Linked DNA regions of Homo sapiens: region 2 is linked to region 1. The links come from fine-mapping of genetic effects on gene expression. A gene starts in region 1. The other region holds a variant in brackets. All regions are shown on one strand. Distances are from middle to middle.

Region 1 (4,441 bases):
GTCACAAAGTGTAATTCCCAAATCATGTGCTATAAAAAATAGGTACCATTTAAATTAACAAGGAATCGAGAGAGTAAATACTAGAACTCAAAATTCTGATTTCTACATTACTTTGCTCCACAATGGGATATCACATGAACTGACAGACTTCTACCATGTTGAGTCACAAGGTAAAAACTGACTTTGATGTGTTTATATGAACACAGTTAGGCTTCCCTGACTAGAAAAAAAAAAAATCAGCATTTGTATTCTAAGACTTCCTGAATATATAAGGATACAACATTGTATCCTTTGTATCCACACAAAATAGCTATGAATAGTATCCAAACAAAACATAGTATGCAAACAAAATAGTATCCAAACAAAATAGCTATGAATTGTATCCAAACAAAATAGCTATGAATAGTCATTTGCAAATGAAAATAAGAGCTTATTCTTATTTCATTTTTGTTAATTGAATAGTTCCTGGCAGAAGGAAGGCATGTTTATTTAATTAAGGCAATTAGGGCACCCCTTAAGTTCCCGTACTTAAATTAAGATCTTAATTTTCTTGTGATGTCCTAAAAGAACATTTTCACTTTTAATACAAAGGTAATACAAAGCTACAAAGCTCTGAAAGAAAAGCACACTATTTTGAAATATCTGATGTATAAGTTTTCATCCTTTTCGATAAGCTTTTTTCTACCCTAAGGAAAAAGATTCACTAAGAGTAAACTCCTAGAATAGATATTAATCCAAAATATAAAAACTTTCAAACATAATCTCTAGCCTCACATTATTTTTGCTTTTGGCTGTTTCTCACCTGGCCTAAAATTATTCCTTTAAAATCCTGAAAGGTCATGTCTAGATTAACAGTGTTCCTTTGGAAGGCATATTCCAATTTCTTTACAATCCCCACATGGGTTGGCTACAGTCACTGTTATTCTCGGCATAACCACCTATGTCCTTAAAAATTTAACATAAGTACAATCTAACATAACAGGCTAGGGGAGAGAATAAACCAATGCACCTGGGATGAAAGTTCTTCTGTTTCATAACATAAAACTTCAGGACTCAGCTATCAGTTTCGGGTGCAGAATGTCCATACAACAGGGGAGCCGCTGCTGCCTGAGAAAATGAAGTGAAGAGAGGATGAGGAGAGGACAAAGAGGCTCGTTTGTGCCAACAGGAGGTCCACGTTTTGCACTTCCTCCCTCCGCACAGTTCGCTCTAGGTCAAGGAGTAATAAAGAAGCAATATCCCAGAGGCACCAGCCAGCAGCATGCGCTGAGAGAAGCTGACTAGAGGATCTGAAAAGGACAGAGGCTGGAAGACCAGCTGTGAGGTTTAAATCTTCCACTGCTTACCATCTGTGTGATTTTTTATTACCATAAGTTGGTTAACTTCTATGCCTTAGTTTTCCCATCTGGAAAATGGGCAGAATGATAGCTCTTAACCTCCTGGATTGTTGAGAGGACGGAATAATATAAACAAAGGGTCTACCACAGTGTGTAACACACAGTGAGCGCTCAGTCCAATCAATGGTAACGCTGTCATTAATTATCTCCAGCATACCGGCTGCTCTCAGAGTACCCCTTACTGCCTCAATGTTCCCTAGGGACCCAGGCGGGCTGGCTGGCGGCGCCTCCGCGCGTGCAGATACTTAGGGGACTGAGTCCATAAGGACTCCTTCCAACCCAGGGGAACCCATGCCCCAGCGCAGTCTCCCCAGGAGAGATGAATCCTGATCCCCACCCCTGCACGAGCCCGACCGATTTCTCAGGGAGAAGACCGGAGCTCGGGTGTCAGGGAATAGGGGACACGACTGCCCCAGCAACTTGCAGGAGTCGCACCACCTCCATGCACTTGTCCCGGCGCTCCCGGCCCGAGTAGCCTCCCGCAGCCCACACCTGCCCTGGCAGTTCGCACCCTAGCAGCTCCAGCTTCGGCTGCTGCAGAAGCCCGCACTTCCAGTCCCGGCCAATGCCAGCTGCAGTGGCGCACCCTGATGACGCAACCGGCGCGTGGCATTGACGCGGGGCCGCCGGCTAGCCAGCGCCGGGGGCGGGGCCCGGCCTGCGAGCCTCAGGGAGCGTGAGCGGATCCGAGGGTGTAATGTGTGTACTCGAGTGTGCGTGCCTGTGTGTGGCTAAAGATAGTGTGTGAGCGCCTGGACAGATGGTTACCCTGCCTAGGCCATGCGTGTGTGAGTGTGTGTGGGTACCTCATTCTGCTTTGTGTAAATTCAGCTTATCCGGGAGCTTGTCCCTCTTCCAGGCTCTGTTGGGAATGTGCGCGTGGGCTATCAGGTTATGTGTGTGGTCTGACTTTTTATGAGATCTGTAAGACTATGTAGGATTTACTACGAATGGGAGAGGCAGGGATTGCAAATGGCCATGTTGTGTAATTTCTACCAAAGTGGCTGAGTGCCTTTTCCTTTAAGGAGGAAAATGAGATATGAAAAGAAGCAAATAAGGCTTGTAGTATAAAAAGCCTCAGTTAGGAGAAATAAGGGCTTTTTTCCCCCTTCGGACTATATGTTACACAGCATGGTGAATATAGTAAATAATAATGTATTATACAGTTCAAAATCGCTAAGAGTACATTTCAAAAGTTCTCACCATGAAAACTGAGAAGTATTTGAGGTGGATATGTCAATTAGCTTGATTCAGTTATTCCACATTGTATTCATAAGTCATAACATCGATTTGTACCCCCTAAATATATGCAACTATTTAGATAGTTTAAAATTTATAGCAATCCAGTCTAGCCAGCTAAGATGGAGCAACAGGACTGAATTTACTCTCCTGCCTAAAACAACTAAAAACAAAAACAAACAGGCATTTATAAGACAATGGCTTTTAAACGTTGTGCTGGACAGTGGTCCTTGAGGAGGGAAAACAAATGAGGTGAGCCCTATGATTGCCTTGATTTACTAACTAGAGGGAGCAGCCAAAAAGAGCTAGGCAGACTCCCTGAGTTGAAGAGATAGAACTGGGAGAGCAGGGAGGCCAAAGCAGCTGGAACTGTGAGTTGTATATCAGAAAGGAGAAAGCTACACAGAGAAAGAAGGAGCTGTGGAGATCTACAACAGATCTCACTCCAGTCTTCCGCTGATTAGAGCATGTGTGTGAGGAAGCTACCTAAGGGCAGGAAATAATCATGTATGAAGAAAAGAGAGAGCAATTACTAAAGTTTGCACAGGGTAGGAAATTAATTCTGCTCCCACAAGGCAGAGTAGAAAGATACCCAGTGATTATACAGGACCAGAAATAGTGCCTGATCCTGGCACCCCGACTGGAAAACCTCATAATTCACAACTCAAATGGTTTTGCTTCAGTAGTGGGGCAAAATTAGCTCTAATGTAAAAGCTACTCTGATTCTATCTTAGAAATCTTAAAAGCCAGCCACCAAAGGATTAAACCGTTTTTGAGAACAAAGTGTCCCAGAGCAAAGCACAAGAATATTTACAGGAAATTAAAAATAACCAACACCTAACAAGGTAAAATTTGCAACATCTGGAATCCAAACAGAATTATCAGGCATGCGAAAAGAAGCAGGAAATGAGAAAAAAAAATCAACCAATTGAAATCATCCCAGAAATGACAGAGATGATAAAATAAGAGAACAAGGACATTAAGAAAGTAATTATGACTGTATTCAATGTTTTCAACAAGTAGAAAAAATAAACTGAGCATGGGAAGTAGAGATGTGAAAAATCTTTAAAAAAAAAAAAGACACAAACCAAACATCTAGGAGATAATAAAACCACATCTAAGATTTTTAACACCCTAACACACACACACAGACACACACACACACACACACACACACACACACACACACACACACAGGATTAATAGGTTAGACATTACTAAAAAAGAAACAGTAAAAAACCTGACGGGAGGCTGAGGCAGGAGAATGGCGTGAACCCAGGAGGCAGAGCTTGCAGTGAGCCAAGATTGTGCCACTGCACTCCAGCTTGGGTGACAGAGCGAGACTCTGTCTCAAAAACAAAAACAAACAAACAAAAAAAAACTTGAAAGCATTGTGATAGAAACTATCCAAAATGAAACACTAAGGGAAGAAAAATACTGAAAGTAAAAGTAGAGTATCAGTGAGCCTAGTATACATGCAATTGTAGTCCCTGAAGAAAATGAGAAATATGAGGTGAGAATAGATTAGGGAGGACAGAAAAAAGCATTTGAAAGAATAATTGATGAAAACTTTCCAAATTTGACCAAAACTATAAACTTATAAACCCAAAAAGCTCAACAAACTCAGTAGAAACATGAAGAAAACCATACCAAGAAACATCACAATCAAAATGCCTAAAGCCACTGATAAAGAGAAAATCTTAAAAGCTATCAGAGAGAAAAAAAAAGACATTACTGTACAGAGGAACAAAGATAAGAATGACAGCAGATTTCACATCAGAAAAATGCAAACCAGAAGATGGTGG
Region 2 (4,000 bases), 22 kb before region 1:
AAGACATAAGCCCCCTCTTCTCTCCTTCCTCTCTTTTCTCTTAATCACAAATGAGGCCCTCCACTCACTTTGCTGCTCTGTGTATGTCTCATCTCAGTTAGATTTTCAGCTCCTGGATAGCAAGACACTCTACCTCTCCTGAAAAATAAGGGTAATGCTATACAAACGGTAATTCAGTAACTACTCATTGTAAACAGTGATATAACAGGAGATTACATTTTCGTTTGAAAACTAAAATTATAGCCACATTCCCTCAAGCAAGGGGCTATCACCCAAATTAAAGCAGATACCACTATGTGTTTTAGGCCTTTTTATTTTCCATGAAAATTACTGAAAATATTTCAAGGTCTGACATACCTATGATGGCCTCCATGATAAAGACATGAAGTACCCCATTGCTGTAGAAGTTGAGTTCGAAGACTGATGGGACAGTTGTGCTGGGGGTGATAAAAAACTCATCGTTCCTGCTAGTGTGGGTGATTGTGACACAATTTCCCAGCAGCTGTATGGCATGCATTACTACATCTTCTGAATTTCCTGAGAACCCCAGGTCAAAATCACGAGCCAGGACTTCCTCTTTCATCACAAAGAAGTCTTCGACCAATGTGGAGAGATCAATTCCCTAAAGAAAGATGGAAACGGTATCATGATGGTGGAAAACCTACTTTCCAAAAAGCTGAGAGGCCAACATTCCAAGACTTTCTTCTTGCCTTGGCTTTCCTGCAGCTCACTGCTAGCACATAGAGAAGTAGGGCCAGAACACCAATGCAGAGCGAGTCAGAAAACTACTTAAAAAGCTGGTCCTCCAGGAATGTCAAGGTATTACACATGCTAGTGAACACTCTAGCCATGACACATGATATGCACACATAAGATCACAAGGGGGAGGAAAAAAGCCATCTGCAAGTAAGGAGTGCTTATTTTTTAGCAAAATTTCCTTCATTTTAAATATTTATCTGGCAAATATTTATTTGGTGCCTATATATATTGGCACTGTTTGGTGTTGAGAATATGACTGAACAAGACTGGTGTGGTCTCTTCCATCATAAAGCTCAGACAAATGTATTTTGGGAGGATAAAGGGTGGGTTCTAAAATGCCAGTCAATTCATTTGGAAAGCATTTGCTTTCAGAATATATACCACATGTTAATGAGTTAGACCTTATTTACATTAACAGTATTAATCAAGCAATAGCTTAGTACTATATATATTAAGCAGTCTGTTTTGTTTTGTTTTTAAATGTAGATTCTTCCTCCACCAAGTTGATAAGCTCCTTTGGGCAGGGTCCTCAGCTTATTTTACTGTTTACCTCATAGTACTAGCCATGAGTGGGCCAAATCTGCCCCTGAGTATGTATCTGAGCAGCTGACAAAACATTCTCCTGCTTCCTACTTAACTGCAGGTGACATTGCAGACATACCTGCCTGTGTCTGTAGAGGAGCAGGCAAGCCACAATGTGTGTGGACATAATGGCACAGGACTTGCTAGCAGCTGGAAGGCAAACACAAAGCTTTTTTTAGTTGCACTTTTTACAAACATAGCTGAACTTTTTTGAAATACCTAAATTTTAAACAGGAGTATTTAAAACTGTGAAAGTCTTCTATCA[C/T]ATTTCCCATAAGTGTGATTTACCAAAAGGAAGTTATAATACTACAGTGTTCTGGTATAATGGAACCTCATTAGAGATCACTATTCATCATACAACAGGCTAAGTAAGACAGGTCCAACTTCAATCCAGGCCAGTGGAATTTAGTTACTGAATGACGAAGAGACACTTTTATTGAAATATCAAGACCCAAAGTACAAGGCTGTTTTAGTTCTACGGGATCTCCCATTTCCATATTCCTTTACTTGCTCCCACCTACAGTCTATTATAACTACAACTCTACTTCACTCTTCTTGCTGGTATTCACCATATTAAAACGAAGGTGTAGTAGAAGGATAACAGCTGACTTGAAGTCAGAAAAATCTGGGCTCAAATCCTAATTTACTCACTAACTAACTTCATGACTTGGGGCAAATTACTTAAATTCCTGGCCTCACCTTCCTTGCTGATAAAATGAAAATCCTACCTAGCTCATTAGACCACATGAGAATAAAATGACTGGCCCGGCACAGGAGCCACAGTAATGGGTGCTCAGCATATTTGTATTTCCTCTTTCAACCTGACCCAGAGGTAAGAAGGAAGGGCACAGACACACATTTGAGAATGACTACAGTGCACACCCCTACACTGAATTTGCATAAAATTATAATTATATAAATCAAATCTGAGAACACCCATGGAATAATCTTAAATCACGATAACATTTGTGAGTTTTCTAAGATAACAATAAATTTAAGAATACTTCATTCACCACTGGTAACTGAAGTCGTCTCCAGTGTTAAAAAAAAGTACTCAGTACTATATGTATAGCTATTAAAAATATTTATAAAGAATTTTTAAATATGAATATTGTGTTATAAATGGAAAGCTGCACAATACAAAACTGTAAAAAATATTTTTAGAGACTACACAGCAACACCACTGGTTATTTGGGTAATGGGTTTTTGCTGTCTATTTCATCTTTATTTTCAAACTTTTTAACAATAAGGTATTATTTTTTGTATCCAGATTTTAAGCAGGATAGAGACATAATCAAATGTGCTTGAGAAAGAATCCTCTGACCCAAAGTCAAGCAGGAATAGGGGCCTCCAGAATGGGAGGAGCAAGGTGAGGGAGGAAGACCTCCCCAGTAGCATTGGCAGGGGGTGCGGAGAGTATCATCAGGGTCCTGGCCCAGAGAGCAGCAAGAAAGAAATCACAACTAGGCTGAGCACCAAAGAACCACTGTGCTGCCTTGGGATTTTAAAGCAGCCTCCACAACAGTACACAATTGTACAGCTTGGAACTTAAAGAAGACTGGTCCTGCAGTGAACTCACACTCCTCTCCTCTCTAGGTTCACTTTAATTATTTGTGTATAACCATCCCACTGACAAGAACATAAGCTCATTGAGTTCAGAACCATTAATTATTCATTTTGTATTCTCCACGGCTAAGGCAAAGCTTTATACAAGGCCACTCATATTTGCTGCATTACAAAAACTCATGGGGTCAAAGGAGAAATGGACATGCAACTATAAATCTAGACGTTGTACCACAAATTAGTTCAAGTAGTTCAAATAAAACACATTAATGAGCAACAGAGGCAACAAATCATTTTAATAATAACTATTTTTAAAAAGTACAACAACTACCACATGAACACCTACTAATTACCAGACACTGTATAAGATGTTTAACTCCAATTATCTCAAATCCTCACGGTATCACCTTCTTTCTAATAACTTACCTATCACCACCTGTGAATTAATAGAAGTGGAAACTAACCTCAGCAGATTCCAAAATCTGTATAGTTTGCACCATACCATGATGAATCTAAATTGTAGAATTAAAGAGTCTGGTATTCTACTTACTGAATAGAATATGCTCAGCCAGATTTGCAATCAACCTCCTTCGTAGGGATTCATCTGTTGCATTTCTGGACTCATTAATGGACGTGTCTCTACCTTCATCAGCAGCATCACTGGGTCTAAAAAGTGTTTCAAAAATCAACACACAACCGCACTCTTTTACAAGGCAAACCATGTGGAACTGATCTTTAAATGAATTAGATACTTTAAATTACTATATATTTTAAATTTAAACCACAAACAGATTATTTCTATGGCTTATTTTCCTCCATAATATACTACATTATGGCCTGGCCAAAACATGTTATTTAGTTATGACTAAATAGTCTGTTGATACACCACTTCCAAAACCACTGGCAGAAAGAATACATAATTCAAGATGCCTTATTTTAAAACATTTCTGAAAATTCAACACTTCCACATATTAAAGGAAAGGCTTCATATTCAATTTCTCTAAGTTAAAATTCAATTTGAATTCAATTTGAATTCCGAAAAATTCAAACAGCAAAATTCTTTCATATGGTTCACTTACATACAATATGCATAACC

What was found. PIP is the estimated chance that this variant, and not a neighbour inherited with it, causes the effect. A credible set is the group of variants that fine-mapping cannot tell apart.
Region 2: its variant is the best candidate, but not a certain one, in a credible set for the expression of GPAM in whole blood (TOPMed, PIP 0.84).

Annotation. Positions count from the first base shown.
Region 1 is chr10:112,181,785-112,186,225 of GRCh38, forward strand. GPAM (glycerol-3-phosphate acyltransferase, mitochondrial) reads right to left here and starts at 1,981. Exons shown (of 22, transcript NM_001244949.2): 1 at 1,909-1,981; 2 at 1,010-1,107; 3 at 1-29. RefSeq lists a silencer at 1,899-2,128.
Region 2 is chr10:112,160,247-112,164,246 of GRCh38, forward strand. GPAM (glycerol-3-phosphate acyltransferase, mitochondrial) reads right to left here. Exons shown (of 22, transcript NM_001244949.2): 14 at 3,455-3,570; 15 at 1,421-1,491; 16 at 358-622. Among named protein-coding and RNA genes, the nearest start is that of GPAM, 22 kb to the right of the region's middle. The variant C/T (reference allele first, on the strand shown) is at 1,607.